Linked DNA regions of Homo sapiens: region 1 is linked to region 2. The links come from fine-mapping of genetic effects on gene expression. A gene starts in region 2. The other region holds a variant in brackets. All regions are shown on one strand. Distances are from middle to middle.

Region 1 (12,396 bases), 22 kb before region 2:
TTGGCTGTCACAGCCTTGTGTCAGAAACACCCTTTAAAATTTAATGTTTCCTTCACGGGTACCCTTTGGCATAAAAAAAGCCCAATCTGAGCCGGACGCAGTGGCTCACGCCTGTAATCCCAGCACATTGGGAAGCCAAGGTGGGTGGATCACGAGGTCAGGAGTTCAAGAACAGCCTGACCAACATGGTGAAACCCCGTCTCTACTAAAAATACAAAAATTAGTTAGGCATGGTGGCACACATGCCTGTAATCCCAGCTACTCAGGAGCCTGAGGTAGGAGAACTGCTTGAACCCAGAAGGCAGAGGTTACAGTGAGCCCAGATCACGCCACTGCACTCTAGCCTGGGCGACAGAGCAAGACTGTCTCAAAAAAAAAAAAAAAAAAAAAAGCTCCATCTGCAGTTATCTGTCGTTAGAGTTTACAAAACAGAGACCTCTTCTGCAGTGTGTCTATCCACATGTAAATATATGTACACAAGATTTAATCTGTTGTTTTGCCCCAAATCTGCCACAAGAGGCTAAGGAAGAGCAAAATAAACGTCGCGATTCGCTTCTCACAGTTCTCAGCCCTTCGCGCTGAACTATTGCTGAGATGGTGGGTTTTGCCAGCAGCCATTGTAGCCCCCGGGCCTGGCTGCATTGCTCACCTCCCTCAGCCTTGTTCTGTCCCTGTCCATGAGATGGAAGTGGCTTTCTCCAGTCAGCTGTGTGTGCAGAGACCGGGGGCTCCGGGCAGAGCCGAGTCCATCAGGACTGGAGGAAGTGCTCACAGCAGGCAGGCTCCCTGGGCCCTGGGTGGGAGGCCTCAGGGATCCCCGTACCTCCTTGCTCACCAGCCAGGCTCGACCTACTGCCCTGTGGGGCAGGTCAGGCTTTTTCCACAGCTCCCTCTCTGGGAGGAGGGTCCTTCCAAGTGAGGGTGTGGTGTAGCTGGAGAATCCCTCTTTCTAGGGGATTTAAATAAGCAGCCCCAGCCGGACGCGGTGGTTCACGCCTGTACTCCCAGCACTTTGGGGGGCCGAGGCGCACAGATCACGAGGTCAGGAGTTTGAGACCAGCCTGGCCAACATAGTGAAACCCCATCTCTACTAAAAAAAACAATACAAAAAGTTAGCTGGGCATGGTGGCAGGTGCCTGTAATCCCAGCTACCTGGGAGGCTGAGGCAGGAGAATGGCTTGAACCCGGAAGGCAGAGGTTGCAGTGAGCTGAGATTGCACCACTGCACTCCAGCCCAGGTGACAGTGCAAGACTCTGTCGCAAAAAAAAAAAAAAAAAAAAAAAAAAAAATTAAATAAGTAAATAAATAAGCAGCCGCATGACCCATGCTGAGGACCCTCTGCCTCACGTTGGTGGCCACGTGTGGTGGCTGCACGCTGGGTGCCTGGGGATGGCTGTGTCCCCGAGTCAGCCCCAGAAGTGCCTACGCCTCTAGGACAGCTCAGAAGTGCTGACAGGTCGTGGCCTCTCAGGATGGGCTCTGGGTTGCAGCTTCATGCCTGGAGTGGCTCATGTTTGGGGGCAAGGTCATGGGCGTTTAAGAGCAGCGACTGGCCAAGAACATGATCTGTATCAGCAGCAGCTTTTGAGAATCTGATGAAATCCCCAGAGCCCCAGAAGGGCACCGGTGTGTTCCAGCTGGTGCACGTTCACAGGGCTTGTCTCCTCAGAGCGTTTATGGGGAAAAAGATGGAAATGTTCAAGCCCAGTCCGTACTGAGAAGCAAATCGAACTTCATACACTTGGTAGACATTTTCAGTGGAAAAATATTAACATTTTATGGAATTCTTACTCTGCTACGTCCCTAGCCAAGCTGTTTGTATGCATGACCTTGGTTAAACCTCAGTTGCCTCTAGACCCCCATTTCATAGGCAAGGAAGCTGGGAGAGGGTCCCCCCATTTCATAGGCAAGGAAACTCGGAGAGGGTCCCCCCATTTCATAGGCAAGGAAGCTCGGAGAGGGTCTCCCATTTCATAGGCAAGGAAGCTGGGAGAGGGTCCCCCCATTTCATAGGCAAGGAAGCTCGGAGAGGATCCCCCCATTTCATAGGCAAGGAAGCTGGGAGAGGGTCCCCCCATTTCATAGGCAAGGAAGCTCGGAGAGGGTCCCCCATTTCACAGGCAAGGAAGCTGGGAGAGGGTCCCCCATTTCATAGGCAAGGAAGCTGGGAGAGGGTCCCCCCATTTCACAGGCAAGGAAGCTGGGAGAGGGTCCCCCCATTTCACAGACAAGTTCAGAGAGGCTCCCCCCATTTCATAGGCAGGGAAGCTGGGAGAGGGTCCCCCCATTTCACAGACAAGTTCGGAGAAGGTCCCCCATTTCATAGGCAAGGAAGCTGGGAGAGGGTCCCCCCATTTCACAGGCAAGGAAGTTCAGAGAGGGTCCCCCCATTTCACAGACAAGGAAGTTCGGAGAGGATCCCCCATTTCATAGGCAAGGAAGCTGGGAGATGGTCCCCCCATTTTATAGGCAAGGAGTCTGGGAGAGTGTCCCCCCATTTCATAGGCAAGGAGGCTGGGAGAGGGTCCCCCCATTTCATAGGCAAGGAGGCTGGGAGAGGGTCCCCCCATTTCATAGGCAAGGAAGCTCGGAGAGGGCCAGTGCTTTTTAACGGTCACGCAGTTCTGAGCATCAGGCTGTCAGCCTGGAGCCTGGCTTGGTACTGAGGTTCCCAGGATGTATAAAGAACTGAACACGCACCTTTGCTGTTGGCTCTTCTGTGCGAGTGCTCTGAGAGTTTTCTGTACTCCCGGCAAGTTTGGGTTGGTACAGATTCACCACAGCGAATCTGACCACGTGGTGACCACAAGCACGCGCTTACTGCGCGCCTAAGTTCACACTCCCTGGAGAAGCTCCTGCCCCAAGGCCGCAGCCTATGGGCCTTTGCGTCTACTCAGGACCATGAGGCTGTGTCCCCGAGCCTGGCCCGGGTAGTAACTGGCATGGCCTGCGGTGCTGGGGGCGTGTCCACAGGAGCTGGTGCCACAGAGGACACGTGTGTCTGCTGTCTTCCTGGACTCGGTCGGACCAGTTTCCCAGTGTGTCCGTGAGGGTGACACTGAGTGAGACTTCTGGGATCCACACCTTTCCTGGGACCCTCACTCTTCCTGCCACAGAAAGCACCTGTGAAAGTCTGAGATCAAGAATGTGCACAGGGGAGGTGTCTGCAGGTCAAGGTCCTGAGCTGATGTCTCACAGGCCTCTGGTAGAGACGAGATTGTTCGTGTCTCTGCGAAGAAGGGCATGTTTTATTGCAGCCAAGTACAAAGTCCTCTCTGCCACTCGCTGGCTGGGACTGAGGTCATGTTCTGTCAGGTTCCAAAGAGCGCCAGGAAGACTCTGAGACCACAGAGCACGGCCTGCTTTCTCCCAGCCCCTGGTAAAGATGTCCAGCCTGGGACCTCCCCCTGTATATAGTGCTTTAAGTGGGAGAAGACCACCACCCAGATCAGGGGAGGACCTGTCCCCTGCAATGCTGCTGCCTGCTTTTCAGATTGACTTGGGAGTGCTTGTGCTGACGGAGCATGTCCTGTGGTTTTTCCCTTTCTTCCCTCTGTTGTTGTGCCTTTTCTGTAGGTACCTGCACCAGTCAGGGGCCCTGACCATGGAGGCCCTGGAGGACCCTTCCCCCGAGCTCATGGAGGGCCCAGAGGAGGACATTGCTGACAAGGTAGGCCCTGGAGGGCTGGGTAGGTGGCAAGTAGGGGATTTAGAACACAGCCACGCCTAAGGGCCGCTGCAGACACCCCGGGAGGTGGGGACAGCACAGCCGGAGGTGACCCCATGTCCTCCAGGGCTCCCCAGACTGTCCATCCAGCCCCGATGCTCTTTGGCAGGTTTCCCCAAGGGGTCTCGTGGCCATGTGAGAAAAAGGAGTCTTCCTGTTGTGCACGAAGGGCCAGCTGGGAGGAGTGGACTGGGCAGTGAGTGAGCACCCTCGGGTATCCCACCCCCACTGTGTCTGAGTCGGGCTGGGGGACACCCAGACATTCAGTCCACCAGGCCCATGGAGACGCGACCTGGGGCACCCATGATTTGGGAGAAAAGGGCTGGCCCTGCAGTTACTGCAGAGCCAACAGCCTGAGGAACGGGCTTCTCCTGGGGCCTTGAATGGAATGGGTGACAGCAGCCAGGGCAAGGCAGCCTTGCCGTGGTCAAGACCCGCTTTTCAGCCAGATGTGGTGGCTCACGCCTGGAATCCCAGCACATTAGGAGGCCTAGGCGGGCAGATCACTTGAGGTCAGGAGTTTGAGATCAGCCTGGCCAACATAGTGAAAACCCGTCTCTACTAAAAATACAAAAGTTAGCCACGCATGGTGGCGGGCAACTGTAATCCCAGCTATTTGGGAGGCTGAGGCAGGAGAATCACTTGAACCTGGGAGGTGGAGGTTGCAGTGAGCCGAGATTGCACGACTGCACTCCAGCCTGGGCGACAGAGGGAGACTCCGTCTCACCTTCTGCACCCCCTCACCTTCTGTGACCCCTTCACTTACTCCTGTACCCCCTCAATTCCTCCTGTACCCCTCATCTCCTCCTGTACCCCCTCACCACCTCCTGTACCCCCTCACCACCTCCTGTACCCCCTCACTACCTCCTGTACCCCCTCACTACCTCCTGTACCCCCTCACCTCCTCCTGTACCCCCTCACCTCCTTGTGTACCCCCTCACCTCCTGTACCCCCTCACCTCCTCCTGTACCCCCCCACCTCCTCCTGTACCCCCTCACCTCCTCTTGCACTCCCATCTCCTCCTGTACCCCCTCACCTCCTTGTGCACCCCCTCACCTCCTGTACCCCCTCACCTCCTCCTGTACCCCCTCACCTCCTCCTGTACCCCCTCACCTCCTCCTGTACCCCCCTCACCTCCTCCTGTACCCCCTCACCTCCTCCTGCACTCCCATCTCCTCCTGTACCCCCTTACCTCCTTGTGCACCCCTCACCTCCTGTACCCCCTCACCTCCTCCTGTACCCCCCTCACCTCTTCCTGCACTCCCATCTCCTCCTGTACCCCCTCACCTCCTTGTGCACCCCTCACCTCCTGTACCCCCTCACCTCCTCCTGTACCCCCCTCACCTCTTCCTGTACCCCCTCACCTCCTCCTGCACTCCCATCTCCTCCTGTACCCCCTCACCTCCTTGTGCACCCCTCACCTCCTGTACCCCCTCACCTCCTCCTGTACCCCCCTCACCTCTTCCTGTACCCTTCACTTCCTCCTGTACCCCCTCACCTCCTCCTGCACCCCCCTTACCTCCTGTACCCCCTCACCTCCTCCTGTACCGCCTCACCTCCTCCTATACCCCCTCACCTCCTCCTATACCCCCTCACCTCTTCCTGCACCCTCCTCACCTCCTCCTGCACCCCCATCTCCTCCTGTACCCCCCTCACCTCCTGTACCCCCTCATCTCCTGTACCCCCTTACCTCCTCCTGCACCCCTCACCTCCTGTACCCCCTCACCTCCTCCTGCTCCCCCACCTCCTCCTATACCCCCATCTCCTCCTGTACTCTCTCACCTCCTCCTGTACCTCCTCACCTCCTCCTGTACTTCACCTCCTCTTGCATCCCCACCACCTCCTCCCTACAACTTCTCTAGCATCTCAAGTCTGCTGACCCAGGCCAAGTCCTCCTCTGCTCCCTTCACTCCTTCTCCTACCTCCGCAGGTGTCTGATTCTCATCTTGGTGTGAACTCTCTGAGGGAGGGACCGAGACATGGATCTGTCTGTCCCTTGCATCCATGGGCACCTGGGCTGCCTCTGTGAGCTGCATCTGGCTGAGCAGAGACCCAACTGTGTGTTGGGGGGCTGAGTCTTGCTGCCCACCAGCCAGCCAGTCCAAAGGCACCCCTGGGCCCCGAGCCCTCAGAGCTGCGGCACTGTGTGCATTTGTGGGTCGAATGACAGTGCTCCCCAAGACCCCGGCCCCATTAGGAGCTGCACCTTTGTGGGTTTATGGGACAAGTTGGATCCAACACCAGCCTAGCTAGGTGGATCTGATTCTGTGCTGAGAAAATCCCCAGGCGGCCTCCCAGGTTGTTCCCTTGGGGGTGCAGGCCCTTCTGCTTCTGGCTGCCTGACCCTGAAGCCTGGTCTCATTGCCAAGGTTGTCTTCCTGGAAAGGCGTGTGCTGGAGCTGGAAAAGGACACGGCAGCCACCGGTGAGCAACACAGCCGCCTGAGGCAGGAGAACCTGCAGCTGGTGCACAGGTGAGCCTGGGCCAGGAGACCCGGGCCTCTGCGTGGCGCCTCCTGTGCCCGCCTGTCAGCCCCCATTTACTTCTCTTTACCTCACACAGCAGGGGCTTGGCCACCCGTCCATCCCCGTTGGAAGCCGGCTGAGGGGGTGGTGCCAGGTGGTCATCTGAGCCTACCCAGTGGGCTGCAGGCAGGCGACCCGAGGCTCTGACTGGTGCTCTCATGGAACCCTAGACACACAGAGGGCCAGAGGAGGGCACTGCCTCCCTCTCGGGAGCGCTGAGACCTGACCCACACAGAGGAGGAACTGACTGCGAACCCACGCAGTGCTCAGCCTCACCAGCAGGCCTGGAGGTGCAGCTCTCCCACCACTCTGGTCCATACGGGGTTTGCCCGTCCTGGAAGAATGCAGGTTAGAGAAGTCGCTCAGCAGCAGAAAGCGAAATGAGCAGTGACTGCTGAGTACGCGACAGGACGCGCAGTCTCATCGCTGTGGGCAGGAGTGCTGGGGAGGAAGCGAAGTGTGACGCCGTGTTTGCAGAGAAAGAGTGGGAGCTGCTTGCCTCACTCTGGTTTGCAGACTTTTCTTAGAATACCGTGTAATTCTCGGTGTTTTTCACACGAGGCACGCCATGTTGTCTCATAGCCGATTTGCAGGACTGTTTCCGGTGCAAAGTAAGATGAGCTTGTCCCAGGAGTCAGCTACCCAGGCTATGACACCTGTAGCTGGGCACCGGCAGCCTCTTGTGGGCAGAGGAGGCAGCCAGGAGGCCTATGAGGCACCTGTGGGATCTGCAGAAGAGGTTCTTCCTGTGAGCTTCTGTCCCTGCCCAGCTGCGCGGGCACATCCCGGCTCTTCCACATATTCTCAGCTCGGCCAAGGGCCCTGTCCCTTGAAGCTTCAGTGTCTTCATCACCACTGAGCAGGTAGATTCAGGGCTCTGAGCAGCCTGCACACACGTGTGTTGGCAGCAGGGCATTTGTGGTCAGCATCCCCAAAGCCCCCAAGCCCTCACCCTCACGGTACTAACATTTGTGACCATCTGCCCTGTGAGCGCTGAGAATTGGAATGCCTCATGGGATTGTGGGCATAACTTGCACATCATTTTAATTCTAACAAAGCAAAGCATGTGCTCTTGTGGAGTGAAGACCCTGGGCTTGGCGGCTGCCCGTTCTCCAGGATTC[T/C]CAGCAGAAGAGGGCCTGCTACCAGCCCCTGCTGCAGAGTGGAGAGGGGCCAGGCATGCTGGTGAAGGGGCTGGACTCCCGTAGTGCGCTACACATAAGCAGTGCCACCAAAGACCACTGTCTCCTCCTTGTCAAGGAGAATCCGGGGGGCTGCCAGATGCACTTGTTTTGTTTTGTTTTTTGAGAGACAGGGCCTCGCTCTGTTGCTCAGGCTGAGTGCTGACTACAGCCTCCACCTCCCAGGCTCAAGCGACCCGCCTCCCTCAGCCTTCGATGTAGCTGGGACTACAGGTGTGCACCACCACACCCAGCTTTTTTTTTTTTTTTTTTGAGACGGGGTCTCTCTCTGTCTCCAGGCTGGAGTGCAGTGGCGCAATCTTGGCTCACCGCAACCTCCGCATCCCAGGTTCAAGCGATTCTTCTGCCTCAGCCTCCTGAGTAGCTGGGACTTGCAGGCATGCACCACCACGCTGGGCTAATTTTTGTATTTTTAGTAGAGACGGGGTTTCACCATATTGACCAGGCTGGTCTTGAACTCCTGACCTTGTGATCTGCCTGCCTCAGCCTCCCAAAATGCTGGGATTACAGGCGTGAGCCACCGTGCCCGGCCTAGTTTTTAATTTTTTTATAGAGATGAGGTCTTGCCATGTTGCCCATGCTGGTCTCAAACGCCTGGCCTCAAGCGATCCTCCCACCTTGGCCCCCCAAAGTGCTGAAATCAGAGGCGTGAGCCACCATGTCCAGCCTAGATGCCTTTGTCGAGTTGACTGTGGAGGTTTCATTTGAGTCTGGAGTATGTTCATCTGTTTTCCGTGTGTGTGGTGTGAAGTCCACACTGCCGCCTGGCACCACCCACTGACCGTCTGCAGTGCAGCCCCGGCCACATTCAGTTCCTGTGGCTGTTCCCTGTGGTGCTCACCTCCAACGTCCTAAACAACACGTTTCCCGTTTTCAGTATCATCTGCCCGTTCTGAGCCATTTGCTCTCTAGCCCTACCATACAGCTGCCATCCTAAGAGTACGTTTCCCGTTTTCAGTATCATCTGCCCGTTCTGAGCCATTTGCTCTCTAGCCCTACCATACAGCTGCCATCCTAAGAGTACGTTTCCCGTTTTCAGTATCATCTGCCCGTTCTGAGCCATTTGCTCTCTAGCTGTGCCGTACAGCTGCCATCCTAGGAATTCCGAGTGCTTTCTCCTGTGTTTGATTCCTTATTTTCTGGGTCCCACGTTTTCTTCTGTTTTGCCAACTCATTTTCTGAGTATGTCACTGATAGTTGCCTGGAAAAGGGAGCACAGGAGCCAGATGCTCTGAGAACTGCTTGTGTGGAAGTGCTTTTTCCTCCCACCCTGCTCCAGTCCATAGTGTAGCTGGGCATAAAATTCTAGGTCAGAGATCGAATTCCCTGAGAATGTGAAGACCTCTGACCCGGTGCTGTGACTGAGGAACCTCTGGTGCCGCAGGGCCTTGATGTTCTCTGTAACTTCTGTTTCCCACCCTACATACTTGGAGGAGGATCTTGTATTATTTGCCGTGCTGTGCACCTGGTTTTCAGCCTTTATTTCGTTTTGTTTTGTTTTGTTTTGTTTTTTGAGACAGAGCCTTGCTGTGTCACCCAGGCTGGAGTGCAATGGCACAATCTCCGCTCACGGCAACCTCCGCCTCCCGGGTTCAAGTGATTCTCCTGCCTCAGCCTCCCAAGTAGCTGGGATTACAGGCATGCGCCACTGTGCCCGGCTGATTTTTGTATTTTTAGTAGAGACGGGGTTTCACCATGTTGGCCAGGCCGGTGTTGAACTCCTGACCTCAAGTGATCCATCTGCCTCGGCCTCCCAAAGTGCTGGGATTACAGGCATGAGCCACCGCGCCTGGCCTAGGTTTTCAGCCTTTAAATCTGGAAAACGCGTCCTTTCGCTGTGGGAAGACTTCTGAAGTTATTTCACCATGCGGCCTCTCCCTCTCATCTGTCTGAACATCTGCTAGTCACACAGTGGGCCTTCTGGATGTTTCCTCTCCTTTTTTAAACTTTCCTCGTCTCTAATTTTATCTTTCTGTTCTTTTTTTCTATGTAATATTCTCAGTTTTCTCCTTCAACTCTTGATCAGATCTTTTTTTTTTTTTTGAGACAGAGTCTCACTCTGTTGCCCAGGCTGTAGTGCAGTGGTGTGATCTCTGCTCAGTGCAACCTCTGCCTCCTGGGTTCAAATGATTCTCGTGCTTCAGCCTCCCGAGTAGCTGGGACTACAGGCACCTGCCACCACATCCGGCTAATTTTTGTATTTTTAGTAGATTCAGGGTTTCACCATATTGGTCAGGCTGGTCTCGAACTCCTGATCTCAGGTGATCTGCCCGCCTCTGCCTCCCAGAGTGCTGGGATTACAGGCGTGAGCCCGGCATCTCAATCGGACTTTTAAATTGTCCTTCCCACGCTTTCAGTTCCTGGGAGCTGTTCCTTGTTGTTTGTCTCTTCTGCAGCAGGCTGCCCTGACGCTGCAGCTTTGGCTCTCTGCTCGCGGAGGCCGCTGGCTCGGGGACCTTTCCCTGCTGTCTGCTGCATCATGTGTCTCCCTGGGTCCTCACTTGGTGTTTGCTTTGGCCACTTCCTGTTGAAAGCTTTCCTGTTGTGTCTGGTGATCTTTGGCCATCTGTTCACTCCTGCGTGTGAGGCACCACAAGGATGAGAGGCTCTGTGCGAGGCAGGGCCAGAGGGCGTGGGCTGTGCTGTGTCAGTGGGCAGGGCCTGTGCCCTTCTCTTTGGGATGGTTCAGTCCTGTCTCCTGCGGATGGTTGTGAAGATCTCAGGAAGGCCAGGGTCTCCCTGCCCTGTGGGAATATTCCCTTTCCCCTGTGGTCTAGCTGACACCTGCCCTGCCTCTGCTCTGAGGTGACCTGGATGGGACTGGTCTCTATACCCACTTCCCCAGCCTGGAGGGGACTGGGAGCAGAGTGGGCCCCCCCCCCACTTGTGGCCCCTCACAGCCTCTGGGGCCCGGATGTGCCCAGCTGCCAGAGCCAGACTCGTCCTGGCTCCCATGTGGACCTGGCATCTCAGGAAGCCTCGTGAGCACCTTTGGGTGATGTGCCATGAACTGACTGTACTGCAGCTGAAGGCAGACTCCGCCAGCACACTCAGTTCTCTGGTGTTCAGCTGCCGCGGACCACGTGCTCATCAGACACTCACTTCCTGGAAATGCTGTGGCCCTTGGGCCCTGGCACCTCCACGCCCCGTCCCGAGGCCCCGTGCCTCTGGGCTCTGAGCGCACGCGTTGTGTGTAGTGGCCCTGGCACCTCCACGCCCCGTCCCGAGTCCCCGTGCCTCTGGGCTCTGAGCGCACTCGTTGTGTGTAGTGGCCCTGGCACCTCCACGCCCCGTCCCGAGTCCCCGTGCCTCTGGGCTCTGAGCGCACGCGTTGTGTGTAGTGGCCCTGGCACCTCCACGCCCCGTCCCGAGGCTCCGTGCCTCTGGGCTCTGAGCGCACGCGTTGTGTGTAGTGGCTGCAGGTGGAGCAGCTGCATGAACACAGAGTGCACCAGGAGAAGTTACCTGGCGGGCTCAGGCCCTCTGAGTGCTGCGGTCCACAGGCCACAAGCGGGCAGTGCCTGTGGGTATCAGCTGGGCCTAGGTGCAGTGGACACTGCTCCGGCCACCCCAGGTGCCTTTAGTGTGGGAGGCGAGGCCATCTGGGGGTGTATTCGCTGCTTCAGAACTGCCTTGACCAGAGCTCGGGGATGCCCTTCTCGGTGCCCTACTCCCGAGTGGAGGCAGGTTCTCTGGAGGTCCTGAGGCAGCTTCTGGGCATGGGTGGAGCCACTGCACACCCTGCCTGGAGACAGCTCAGCTCCTCCCTTTGCCTTTCAAGAGCAAACGCCCTGGAGGAGCAGCTGAAGGAGCAGGAGCTGAGAGCCTGCGAGATGGTCCTGGAAGAGACCCGGCGTCAGAAGGAGCTCCTGTGCAAGATGGAGAGGGAGAAGAGCATTGAGATCGAGAACCTGCAGACCAGGTAGGCGGTTCCCAACAGCCCATCCACCCCAGAACCTGCAGGCCAGGTAGGAGACGGTCCCCAACAGCCCGCCAGCCCCAGAAACTGCAGGCCAGGTAGGCGAGGTTCCCGACAGCCCGCCAACCCCAGAACCTGCAGGCCAGGTAGGAGAAGTTCCCCGAAAGTCCGCCAACCCCAGAACCTGCAGGCCAGGTAGGAGAAGTTCCCCGAAAGTCCGCCAACCCCAGAACCTGCCGGCCAGGTAGGAGAAGTTCCCCGACGGCCCGCCAACCCCAGAACCTGCAGGCCAGGTAGGAGAAGTTCCCCGACGGCCCGCCAACCCCAGAACCTGCAGGCCAGGTAGGAGAAGTTCCCCGACGGCCCGCCAACCCCAGAACCTGCAGGCCAGGTAGGAGAGGTTCCCGACGGCCCGCCCACCCCAGAAACTGCAGGCCAGGCAGGAGAGGTTCCCGACAGCCTGCCCACCCCAGAAACTGCAGGCCAGGTAGGAGAGGTTCTTGACAGCCCGCCCACCCCAGAAACTGCAGGCCAGGCAGGAGAGGTTCCTGACGGCCCGCCCACCCCAGAAACTGCAGGCCAGGTAGGAGAGGTTCCCGACAGCCCGCCAACCCCAGAACCTGCAGGCCAGGTAGGAGAAGTTCCCCGACAGTCCGCCAACCCCAGAACCTGCCGGCTAGGTAGGAGAAGTTCCCCGACGGCCCGCCAACCCCAGAACCTGCAGGCCAGGTAGGAGAAGTTCCCCGACGGCCCGCCAACCCCAGAACCTGCAGGCCAGGTAGGAGAAGTTCCCCGACGGCCCGCCAACCCCAGAACCTGCAGGCCAGGTAGGAGAGGTTCCCGACGGCCCGCCCACCCCAGAAACTGCAGGCCAGGCAGGAGAGGTTCCCGACAGCCCGCCCACCCCAGAAACTGCAGGCCAGGTAGGAGAGGTTCTTGACAGACCGCCCACCCCAGAAACTGCAGGCCAGGCAGGAGAGGTTCCTGACGGCCCGCCCACCCCAGAAACTGCAGGCCAGGTAGGA
Region 2 (12,396 bases):
GTGGTGGGGGAAGGACGGGTGGGCAAGGCTGGTGCGTTCCCCAGCTCTCCCTACGCTGCTCGGGCCATTGCCCAGCCAGATGTGGTCACCTCAGTCCAGCTCTGGGGCCTCCAGGCCATGTGGCTGTTCCCACGGCCCAGTCCTCGCTGCAGTAACCCCTGGGGGCTCTGACCACCTATGGGGGCCGGGCAGGAGCCTCTGGGGCCTCCACTCCGACATCAGGACCTGAGATGACCGCTGTGTGGCGCTCTCTCCCTGGGCAGGGTGGATGCCACAGGCCCCTCTGGCTCCCAGGTGCTGCTTCTCCACAGGTGCGGCCTGGCCCGGCCTCCTAAAGGCCACACCCTCCCCACGCACTTCCCAGGCCAGAATCCAAACATCGGGAACCCTGTTTTCTTCTGGGTGTGTCTCACTTAGAAATCGTGGTTCTTCCCCGAGGGTGCATGTTGCAGGAGGGAGAGGGCAGGGAAGACTCACAGCAGAGCAGGAGGGGGCCTGTGCTTCTCGGGGTCTGCACCCCAGGCACAGCGGTGTCACCCCGCAGGACCGCGGGCCTGCCCCAACCCCCAGCATTCCCGGGTGGGCCCAGACCCCATCACCAAGACTGGCCACCCGCTGCGTGTGTGTGCGCGCGCGTGTACGTGTGGCCCCACATCCGCCGCCTTCCACGCTAGGATGTAAGAGGTCGCCTCCTATTGTACATTTGGGGAAAGCCTTGGGTGTAAATCAGTGTAAACTTGGAGGAGAGATTTTTCTATCATGTAGAGTAGGTATTTTTTATAGATTGAAGGTTGATCAATTTTTTAATACTTTCAAGAGAAAACTGTGTATACACATGAAATATATATATATATATATATATATATATGTATAATATATAAAGACTGGCACCCTGCCTCTCTGTGCCCAGGCCCAGCCCTGGTGACATGGCACCACTCAGCAGTGCTGTCACTGTAAGCATGGACTCCCAGGAGACAGTGTGGGAAACGCTCCTGCTTTAATTCCCCGAGAAACGGCTCTTCCTGCCTGGATGCAGGAGGGCAGGGGCCACCACAGATTAAAGCTGTTACTGCACACGCAGAGGCCGGCTTCTTCCTCCAGGGGGGCCACAGGGTGGGGTGGGAGTCTTCTGGGCCTGGCCCAGCTTCCCTCAAGGCGTCCGAGGCCATCAGTTGTCTGAGCTCAGAACCCAGCAGACCTGCCTGGCTCTGCAGCTTGGTCAGACTAAGACCCTTCCAAGGCCGTAGGATTGCACCTCCAGGCCCAGTGGAGCCTGGCAGCTTTCCAGCCAGGTTCTGGATCCTGACGAGCTGCTGAGACAGCATCAAGGTGGGGCAGGTGGGGCGGGGCAAATTGGGCAGCACAGGGCTGTGTGGGCATCAGGGCTCTGGGTCACACGCCTCTGGGGACGTACGTCCCATGTCGGGAGAGCCGTCAAAACGTCCCCGGGATTAAGAGAAGAGTGGGGGGCAGGGCGCAGAGGCTCACGCCATAATCTCAGCACTTTGGGAGGCCAAGGCAGGAGGATCGCTTGAACCCGGGAGTTCAAGACCAGCCTGGGCAACATAGCAAGGCCCCATCTCTAAAAAATAAAAAATTAACCAGGCATTGTGGTGCGCACCTATAGTCCCAGTTCCTTGGGAGGCTGAGGTGGGAGAATTGCTTGAGTCCAGGAGACGGAGGTTACAGTGAGCTGTGATCACACCGCTGCACTCCAGCCTGGGCGACAGCGAGACCCCATTTCAGAAAGAATTTAAAAGGGCAGTGATGTGCAGGGTGGTGGGAGGACATCCCCCAGAAGAGGGGGCAGACACAGTACCAGCACCACAGGCACGGGAAGGTGAGGAGGCAGGTCCCGACGGAAGTGGGCTCCCGAGGTCATGGGCAGCCAGGGAGTCTGAGAGAGCTCAGTGCCACTGCAGCCACAAAGAATGGCCTGCGGGGAGTGGTCCCATCTGATCAAGAGTCCCCCAAAAACACAAGCCTTGAAAACTGGACCACCTGGTCCAGCATCCAGGAAGCGGACTGTGCATCTGCGGCTCTCGCTCTCCCGCCCCCCGCGCGAGATGCCCGCCTGCCTGTCACTCTCAGATGCAGATGGAGATGGAGAAACCAAGGCCCAGGGAAGCTGAGGACCCAGGTCTGCCAGTCCCCTCAGCCCAGCTGCTGCTTGCGGGCTGGTGACCAGAAGAGGACCAGGCGTGGCCTACAGTGAGGAGTCCTTGAACCCTCAGTGCAGGTGCAGCAGAATGGTTCCAGGTCACAGGGCCCAAGAACCCTGATTGCTTCATGAGTTAGAACTGAGGAGTGACAGGCCGGGCGCGGTGGCTCACGCCTGTAATCCCAGCACTTTGGGAGGCCCAGGCAGGCGGATCACAAGGTCAGGAAATCGAGACCATCCTGGCTAACATGGTGAAACCACGTCTCTACTAAAAATACAAAAAAATTAGCCGGGCGTGGTGGCCGGCACCTGTAGTCCCAGCTACTTGGGAGGCTGAGGCATGAGAATGGCGTGAACCTGGGAGGTGGAGCTTGCAGTGAGCAGCGATCACGCCACCGCACTCCAGCCTGGGCAACAGAGCGAGACTCCGTCTCAAAAAAAAAAAGAACTGAGGAGTGACATGGGCGGTGTGGGTGTGTCCAAGGCCAAGTTCCTCCTCCCAGGAAAAAGACCTGCTCTCCCACCTACCCAGGGGTCTGTGTGGTGCCAGTAAGACCCATCTCTGCCTAGAGGGAGAAGCTGGAGGTGGGGAGGGGAACTCACTCCACGCTGCCAGGCCAGAGCCAGGGAGGGGAAGGGGAGCAGCTTCCTCCTCCTGATACCCCACTGTGGTCTAGGAGCACCTCAGTTTCCACGCTAGATTTTAAACATGGGGCTGTCCACAGTCCAGCTGGCCCCACCTCGATGACCCACTGGGGTCTCCAGCCCAAAGGAGTTTGAGACAGGAGGACACAGGATGAAATGGAAACATTCCCGGAAGGGCTGCCAGAGACCTTGTGGGTGAGCGAGAGCAGGGTGGGGTGGCCGGTGTGCATGCCTGGTGGACGTGCCCAGAAGCCTGCACCCCCCAGGAGGCCCGAACGTGTCCCTCTGGAGTGTCGCCCCCACCCCCAGCTGTGCAGTGGGATGGTCACTGGGCCTGCCAAGTCTCCCAAGGCAGATCCTGTCCCCAGCTGGCTCCTGACATTGAATGTTCTGAGTCTTGGTCAGTTCTGCCCGATGGAAGAGCACCAAGGAGTCTTGCCCGGCAGGATAGAGAGGAGCGGCTCTGCCCCTGCCCTGGAACAAGAGCCCCGGACGTGGGTGCAGAGCCCCTCACATGAGGACCGCCCCATCCTGCCTCTGCTGAAGGGCAGGTATAGGAAGGCTGGACCCCCTCAGCGGCCCCCCGGATGTGGGTGCAGAGCCCCTCACATGAGGACCGCCCCAGCCTGCCTCTGCTGAAGGGCAGGTATAGGAAGTCTGGACCCCCTCAGCGGCCCCCCGGATGGCACCCTGGCCCCTCTACCTGCTGGCAGTCCAGTAACCTGGAGGTGGTGGCCCAGAGAAAGGCGGGAACTTCTCCCAGGGCCCCGTCCATTGTTATTTTCACCTGTCCGGCCGCCCATTCTTTTTTTGAGACGGACTCAGTCACCCAGGCTGGAGCGCCATGTGCCATCCCAGCTCACTGCAGCCTCAACCTCCCGGGCTCAAGTGATGCTCCTGCCTCTGCCTCCCAAGTAGCAGGGACCACAAGCACACACCACCACACCCTAATTATCTTTTAAGTGGAGACAGGTTTCGCTTTGTGTGTTGCCCAGGCTGGTGGTCCGTCGTCTTTTTGACCCAGGCCTGTGTGGCTCACAAAGCAGGCAATTGCAGGGTCATCCCATCAAATCTGAGCATGGCACCAGAGCACACAAGTCAGCCACCTGCGGGCCTTGGCACCCTCGTGCTCCACGCCAGGGTCCCTGTGTGCTCAAGTCTGGGCTCCATGATGGCACTGGGGTTTGTTCTGTTTGCTGCTTTGTGCGCGTGAGGCTTTCTCTGGGTGCCTGAACAGATGCCTCCAGTTTCAGTTCTTTCTGTTTGGCCCTCCCCATCCTCTTCTCCTCCAGGGGGGATTCATGGCTCGCCTCTTGGCTCTTCTGGGCACTTGGCGAGCTTCTGCGCACTTGCGTTAGCTGCTCAGGTCTGTCTGGATGTGAGAGTCGTGTCCTCAGGCCAGGAAGCACTGGCACGGAGCAGGGCTCGGTCAATGGTCTGGATAATCCAGAGTCACTTACCTTCTGCTGTGCAGTCATTTACAATTCACGCCTGTGTGCCTGATGTCTTGTGACTCAGAATCTTCAAGACAATCACAGGCTGGCCTCACGGAGGCACGAGTGACTCATTTCTCTCATCGCACCCATTCCCTCCAGCACTCTCCTTGTGCGGGGAAACCTCAGTCACCTTGAAGACGCCTCCTGAGGCCCTCTTCTGGGTGAATGGGCTTCCTCCTTCACCATGACAGGCTACTGGGGAGAGCTGGGGTGCTCCCACCCTCTCCTCACCCCAAATGGGCCTGGCCTAGCAAAACTGGCCAGAACTGGCCACTCTGCAGTGAGCTGGCAGGGCCCTCAGCATCAGATCAACAGGTTCAACTGCAGCTGCCTCTCTGGTGGGGAGGTTATAAGGCCTGCTGGCTAGACCACTGGCCCCTGGCCAGGGAGCCACCTAGGCAGTGCCAGGGAAGGACTGGGAAGGGAAGAGAACCTGCGGTCCCTGAGTGAGGCCTTGACTGCACCCTCTCCTGTGGTTCGAAAGCCACACTTGGCCAGTATCCTGCCATGCAGGTGAGGAAGCTGGGGAGGACAGGGTCCCAGAGCCTTGTCCAAGTTGCAGAGAGGAGAGCCAGCTCTCACTCTGCAGCCCTCTGTGCCCCCAGACCCCCACTGGCCCCCGGGGACACATTTCCTGCCCTTGGGATGCTTTGGCATGGATATAGTCTGGGAACAAACGGCACATCCAGCTGCCCTGCCTGTCTCCACAGAGGGGGCAGCAGACCTAGGGGGAGGTGTCCAAGACACAGGAATGAAGTGTCCTTACCAAAAGCTTCCGAGGACAGAAATAAACCCCTCCTGCCAGCTTCTGCACTGACTGCAGCTAGAAGCCGAGCTCCACGTGGGACACAGGTGTCCCTGCTGCGGCATCTCAGCATGACGGAGGCCCATCCTTGGCTTTCCTGGAGCATGAATATCCTCTGAGGAGCACTGGCCCTGGCCTTGTAGGTCTTGCTGAGACTGGCTTAGATTTTCTGGCCCAGGAGCAATCGTCACCCAACCTCCCACTTGTAAATCTCGCCACAGAATCGGCCCACAACCGTCTCTCCGGAATCTCGGCGGACCAGCCCTGCTCCTGTGTCTCCCTCTCCCGCAGAGCCACTGCCTTCTCAGGCTCCTCAAGTGCACCTAAGAGCGGGAGTCTGGCTGCCCTCAGCACTCGCGTCCCGCCCTGCAGCCTGATAAGCTTGACGCCAAGGCATTCTCCCGAGAGCCGGCCCAGCAGCTGCTGGCAGGAGAGTGGCCTCAGGGCAGCGGGAAGGGGACCTCCGGGGAGAGAATGAGGCCTGCGCAAGGGTCCTGGAAGGACCCAGGAGTCGCCCCGGCTTCCCTCCCCCAGGCCCTGGTTGGGCGCCGTGGGCCGCGTCCCAGTTGAGCCCGGCGTGGCCGTTTAATGGCGTCCCTCCGCGACCGAGGACGAAGGGGCCTAGAGAGGCTGTGCCCAAGCGACGCTGCGAGGCCAGGCCGCGTCTCGGGCCAGGGCGGTCCCCTTGCCACCGCCGCTCTTGGCCGCCAGGACCAAGCACAGCACGCAGCGTCGCGAAAGGGGCGGTCCTGGAAGGCGCGAAGGGGTCTCCGGGTCTCGCGAACACGGCGGGGTCGGGGCGGAGTCGTGGGTCCTCGGTCGAGCGGCCGCCCAGAGCCCCGCGGGACACGGACGGCCCCAGCCCGGCTCCCCGCGAGCCCCACGCGTCTGTGACGCCGCTGATGCGCAGACGCCGCGGCTGCAGGCCCCGCCCCTCCGTGCCCCTCGCAAGGCCCTCTGGGAGTTGTAGTTCCAGCTCCTCCTCGGGCCGCCCCACTCCCTGATAATCCTGGAGCGCGGCGCCTCCCGGGGACCGAGGCCTCGGGCCCGGCCGTCTCCAGCAGCGAGGGCAGGAGAAGTGGCCCGGGCGGTCGGCGGACTGGGAGGGCGCCACCCGAGGACTACAACTCCCGGCCTGCCTCGCGCAGGCACCGCCCCGAGCTTCCGCCCCGTCGGCGCCGCGCAGCCCTGTGGGAGCCGTAGTCCGGGCGCGCGATTCACAGCGCCGCGTGCGCCCCGGGCGCGCCGTAGCCGCGGGGCCCGGGCCGGGCGCTACGCTACGAAGGCAGCGTAAGGCGGGCGCCGGACGCGGGCAGGGGCCGGGGCCGGAGCCGGGTCGGGGCGCCCCGCGGCTGAGGAGCGGGAGGCCGTCCGGGCAGCGCGGCCGGCGGCGAGAGGGGCCCCGCCGCTCTCCGGAGGCAGAAGTTGTGGATCGGCCGGCGGGGGCGAGCGGGCCCGGGGGCCGGGGCCGCGCTGCCCGGGCCGCGAGGACGAGGCGGCGCCGCCGGGCTGTGGAGGTGAGTCCCGTCGGCCGGGCCCGGCCGGGCGCCCAGCCGGGGACCCCGGGCGGGGAGCGCGGGCCCGGAGGGCGGCGGGGAGCGCGGGCTCGGCGGGGCGCAGGAGGCCTCGGGGGCCGGGCGCGCCGGGCTCCGAGCCAGGGCAGGGACGGCAGGGCCCCCGGAGTGGGGTCAGCCCGCCGCCCGCTGGCGCCTCCAGGCTGGTGGGGGCCAGGGCTGGGCGATGCTTCGCAGAGGAACCCAGAGGAAGGCGGGAAGTCGGCAGGGACCTGGGCCATGTGGGTCACTTGAGGCCAGCCCCGGGGGCCGCGCACACCGGAGGCGGCCTCGGCCCTGCCTGCCCTTGAGTGCCCTTATATCCGGGCCCATCGTGCGGTCCTGGCCGCCTTAGGGATGTTGTGCTTGGTGCGGGCATCACTCCCCTCACTTGGGGAACGGCCTGGGGGCGGCCACCTGGCGTGGAGGGGCTGGCGGGAGCCCCGTCTGTGCCAGCCATGCCAGTGTTCTCTTCCGTGTTCCTCTGGGGCTGCTGCGGCACCAGCTGGGAAGTTGCAAATCTGCTGTCCTCCCGCTGGCTGCAGAAGGGGCCCCTCTAGTCCTGACCGGGGGAACTCTTGTGTGGTCAGCTGGCCCTGGCCGGGCGAGCTCTCGGGGCCCCCTTACTGCTCTGGAGTTTGTTACCGGACTGCAGGTAACAAGACCCGGAAAGCAATGGTGAGGCCCAGAACCTGAGGCCAGGCCTGGGTGTGTGGGGCCAGTGGGGAAGACTGGGACTCCGTTGGGTGCTGAAGAGTTGTGTGCTTCTCCTTCGGGAAACCCGGATCTCTTCCTCTGCCCAGGTCTGAGGGGTGCGGAAACGTGAGTCACAGTTCAGTGTGGGAGTGCCCCGTAATTGCCTCCGCGTTTCCAGAGTCTGGGGCTGGGCAAGGATATAGGGGTGATTCTCCCTTCCGGTTCTGAGTGACTTCTCAACTGTGAAGTGGGGCAAGAGAAATTGTTTTTCTGGCCTGTCTGGGGGAGGCAGGTCCTGCAGGAAACCAGCTTGGCCTGGCCTTGGGTTGGGTGTGCCTTGCCTCCTCCGAGGTCCTTCTGCTTGCGGGAGGAGCACCCCTCTTTTTCCTGCTTCTGTCTGTGTCTGAGGCTCTCCAGAGCTCCTTGATTGGCAGAGGAGCCAGTGACCTCTGAGTCCCCAGGAGAGCCCGAGGCTCAGTAACTGCATAACTGCGCAGGGCCTCTTGTCTGGGCCTCCACAGACCGTGGTCTCTGAGAGCAGGAAGTGGCTGGTCCCCTGTAATGCTGCATCTGTGTGACAGCCTCAAGCCCTGCTGGCTCTCTCTCCGGGCACCCCTCACTTGCTTCTTGCCCTGGCCTTGGGCAGCACTCCGGTAACCCCAGTGCCACAGGTGAGGAACCGAAGCTGGAGACAGCTGTTCATGGCAGGGGAGGGGCCGAGGGAGGCTGAGCGCCTGGTCTCTCCCTCCTGCTGGTTCCACCAGTTCACACGAGGCAATTGGAGGGAAGGATTCTGCTGCCCGGAAAATCCTCCGGAACCACAGGTGTTGTTCATGGGCCTGAGCCGCTCAGTGAAGAACTCGGCCGTTGGTGGCCGAGTTGCCCCTGGTCCAGCCCTCTGGCCCGCGGTGTGATGCCTCTACTCATGGCAACAGGCGTGGACAGGTGCTGAGAAGGAGGACGACATCATTAAACAAAACAGCTTGGGGTCTTTGAAAAACAGTGACAGAAACCCAGGAAGGCTGGTGACTTGTCAGGTCTGTGTCTGTCCTGGGTGGCCACTCGGCCCTGGACCGTGAGGCTGAAATGACAGGAGACACGGAGGGTGGGCTTGGGTGGTTTCCTCATAAGACACAGAAGAAGGAGGCCCCCAACCCGGGGGCTGCCTCGTGCGCTTTGCTCTCCTGTTTTCCTGCTCTGTCCCTCTGGTCCTGCCCTCTGACCCCTGGCACAGCAGGAGTGCCCAGAAGCCCAGTGGGACTTGTTCTCTGCCTAAAGCCCTTCCGCATCCCTCGTACCCACTCGGTGTGGATGTGGGTTTTCTCACCACCAGGCTGTGCCTCAGCTGTGTGGAGCCACTGGCCTCTCATGCCCCACGCTGGAGAGAACGCTGAGGTCTGTGCGGTTCTCATGTGACCCTGTAGCTGGTCCCTGGCTCCCCACTGTGGGATCTGCCTGCAGCACTTACACTTGGGACCGCCCTGTCTCCCTGCTGGATGTGGCGCCGAGGGCAGGGTCCGTTTCTGTTTCTTGGTAGGCCTAGTGTCTAGCGCTATGCAGCCGTGCGCAGAGCAGGCGGTCAGTGAGCACCTGGGGTTGGCCCTCACCACAGGCAGTTCTGAATACCTGGGTTCTGGCAGCCCAGGGGGACTCCTGCGTGCTCCAGGAAAGTAGCACAGCAGCCCCTGTGGCGTGGACACGGCCACACCTGAGCTCGGCCTGTTTCTGAGTCTGAGAGAACAGGCTTGCTGGCCTGTGATCTTTGCATGTGTGTCTCGCTGCAGGGAGGCTGTGGGTTGGGGCTGGACCTAGACCCGTTCAGCCACACCCTGTCACTATGTGGGTCACACACAGCTGGGTGGAGACCTCCCGGTGCGTGGCCCAGGGAGGTGTCTGGGCGTGGAGTCTGTGGACAGCCACATTGTACCACTAGGACAGGGGCTGCTGCTGGGCCCACAGGGTGCACGGAATGGGGTCTGTGGGAGGATGGGGGCATCCTAGCCCAGGGCAGGGACCCCGTGGGCCCCCCAAGATGAGCTGCGTCAGGCTGTTGCTTTGCACACTCTGAGGGGCCTGCCTGAGTGCTGCATGGGAAGCCAGCAGTGTGGCCGCCCTCCCCAGAACTCATCCAGGGCACCAGGGTGGACCCATGAGTCCCGTCGGGTCATGGGCATCAGCCTCGCCATCCTGGCCTCCAGATACAACGATTTGTCAGATTCCCTGAGGTCAAAGGGAAGCTTCAAGGGTTGCCATCCCCGCCTCCCTGGCGGTCCTAGACGGGATGTCAGGAGGACGCAGGGCCATCGCTGCTTTTTAAATGTCACAGTGACTGCAGCGTCTGCTCCTCTGTGGAAGGAGCTTGCTCCGCTAATGAGGGAGTTCCTCCTCATGGCCTTCCCCTCACTTCTCTTCAAAAAGTTGCCCTTTATTTTAACATTTTTTAAGTTTTATTTTTTTGAGCCAGGGTCGTGCTCTGTTGCCCACGCTGGAGTGCAGTTGCAATCATAGCTCGCTGCAGCCTCAAACTCCTGGGCTCAAGTGATCTTCCTGCCTCAGCCTCCCAAATACTGGGACTACAGGTGGGCGCCACCACACCCAGCCTCTGCCCTTTGTAAGTGAAGTCCCCCAGGCAGGTTGAACCTCTTACACCTTCTGCCCCTGCCTGATCCCCACTCCCTACCCCCCACCTCCCTGTCCCCTGTAATGAGAAAGGCAATAAGTTTTGGAGCTTTCTGGAGTTCCTGCCCCTCCTGAAAAGGTGGCTGCAGAGAGGCTGGAGCTGATGGGGAAAGAGGTGCCACGAGGCCTCCTCTGGGTTAGGGCCACACGGCTCCCAAGGCCCCCGTCTCCTTCTCTGGGGTGACAGGTGCCCCCAGGGCCACACGGCTCCCAAGGCCTCCGTCTCCCTCTCTGGGGTGACAGGTGCCCCCAGGGCCACACGGCTCCCAAGGCCTCCGTCTCCTTCTCTGGGATGACAGGTGCCCAGGGCCACACGGCTCCCAAGGCCCCCGTCCCCTTCTCTGGGGTGACAGGTGCCCCCTGTGTCCCAGAGGCTTCTGCTTGGCCACCAGTGAGGTCACCGGGCTGCCCAGACCAGGGCTGCTTCTGCCACCACATGGCAAGCAGAGAAGTAGAGAAGTGCCAAAAACCACGAGTGCTTGTCTGGTCCTTTTTTCCTGTTAAAAATAGAAGTCGGGGCTGGGTGCGGTGGCTGACACCTGTAATCCCAGCCCTTTCAGAGGCCGAGGCAGGTGGGTTGCCTGAGGTCAGGAGTTCGAGACCAGCCTGACCAAAATGGCGAAACCCCATCTCTACTAAAAATAAAAAAATTAGCTGGGTGTGGTGGTGTGTGCCTGTAATCCCAGATACTCAGGAGGCTGAGACTGTAGAATTGCTTGAACCTGGGAGGCGGAGGTTGCAGTTAGCCGGGATGGCACCACTGCACTCCAGCCTAGGCGACAGAGCTATACTCCGTCTCAAAAAAAAAAAAAAGAAAAAAAAGTAGAATTCGGTTGGGCTCAGTGGCTCATGCGTGTAATCCTAGCACTTTGGAAGGCCAAGGTGGGTGAATCACATGAGGTCAGGAGGTAGAGACCAGCATGGCCAACGTGACGAAACCCCCATCTCTACTAAAAATACAAAAATTAGCTGGGCGTGGTGGTGTGTGCCTGTAATCCCAGATGTTTGGGAGGCTGAGACACTAGAATTGCTTGAACCCGGGAGGCAGAGGTTGCAGTGAGTCGAGATGGCACCACTGCACTCCAGCCTAGGTGACAGAGTGATACCCTGTCTCAAAAAAAAAAAAAAAGCCAGCCGCTGTGGCTCACGCCTGTAATCCCAGCACTTTGGGAGGTCAAGGCGGGTGGATCACCTGAGGTCAGGAGATTGAGACCATCCTGGCTAACACGGTGAAACTCCATCTCTGCTAAAAATACAAAAAAATTAGCCGGGCCTGGTGGCAGGCGCCTGTAGTCCCAGCTACTCGGGAGGCTGAGGCAGGAGAATGGCGTGAACCCAGGAGGTGGAGCTTGCAGTGAGCCGAGATCACACCACTGCACTCCAGCCTGGGCAACAGAGCGAGACTCTGTCAGAGAAAAAAAAAAAAAAAACAGGTGATGCCTGTGCCACTGGACACACCTGCACACCATCCTCATGCTGATCACAAAAGAGGGTGAGGGGCCGGGCATGGTGGCTCATGCCTGGAATCCCAGCACTGGGGGAGGCCGAGGCGGGTGGATCACCTGAGGTCTGGAGTTCGAGACCAGCCTGACCAACATGGTGAAACCTCGTCTTTACTAAAAATACAAAAATTAGCTGGGCACGGTGGCGGGCGCCTGTAATCCGAGCTACTTGGGAGGCTGAGGCAGGAGAATAGCTTGAACCTGGGAGGCGGAGGCTGCAGTGAGCTGAGATTGCACCACTGCACCCCAGCCTGGGTGACAGAGCGAGGCTCTATCTCAAAAAATAAAATAAAAAATTTAAAACCAACAAAAAAGAGGGTGATGGCTGAGTGAGGAGTCCATGGTGGGCCCTACACAGGGCCCAGGAAGGACAGGGCGGGAAGCGTGAGCATCCTGCCCACCGCAGTGGGTCCGCCATGGAGAGCATGACCTTAGAGAAGCAAAGCCGCCTGGCTCGAAGCAGTGGCCGCCCTGCTGACAGCTGTAGTGGCCGGGTGGCACTCGGGCTGGGGTCCGGGGGAGTCTAGGTGGCCACCTGGCTGTGTGCCTGTGCCTGCCCAAGCTGGGCACCTTTCCCTGGCAGTGCCTGGGAAGCTCGGCCGCCCTCCCTGGCTGGTGCTGCTCTGCAGCCCCGCTCATGGACTCTTGCCCACGGCCTGCTCCTTGTAGCAGGGTCGGGCCGTGGGAGGTCCGGACAGGATCTTGAATGGCCCTGTCTGCGGTCCTGGCTGGCCGGAGGTTGACCGCACTGGACAGGTCAAGGGCCTTAAACCAGGGTAGTGAGGAGCCTGCTGAGCCCCTGCTGCTCCCCGGGCTGCCTTTGGCGCTCGGACAGACACCCAAGGACAGAAGCTCGGAC

What was found. PIP is the estimated chance that this variant, and not a neighbour inherited with it, causes the effect. A credible set is the group of variants that fine-mapping cannot tell apart.
Region 1: its variant is the best candidate, but not a certain one, in a credible set for the expression of CAPN15 in skeletal muscle (FUSION, PIP 0.83).

The regions. Positions count from the first base shown.
Region 1 is chr16:499,427-511,822 of GRCh38, forward strand. It overlaps RAB11FIP3 (RAB11 family interacting protein 3), which reads left to right. Exons shown (of 14, transcript NM_014700.4): 7 at 3,578-3,671; 8 at 6,098-6,201; 9 at 11,234-11,374. Among named protein-coding and RNA genes, the nearest start is that of LINC00235, 22 kb to the right of the region's middle. The variant T/C (reference allele first, on the strand shown) is at 7,375.
Region 2 is chr16:521,406-533,801 of GRCh38, forward strand. CAPN15 (calpain 15) reads left to right here and starts at 6,307. Exons shown (of 14, transcript NM_005632.3): 1 at 6,307-6,624. LINC00235 (long intergenic non-protein coding RNA 235) reads right to left here and starts at 6,002. Exons shown (of 1, transcript NR_024121.1): 1 at 5,442-6,002. It overlaps RAB11FIP3 (RAB11 family interacting protein 3), which reads left to right. Exons shown (of 14, transcript NM_014700.4): 14 at 1-1,606. RefSeq lists an enhancer at 4,866-5,427.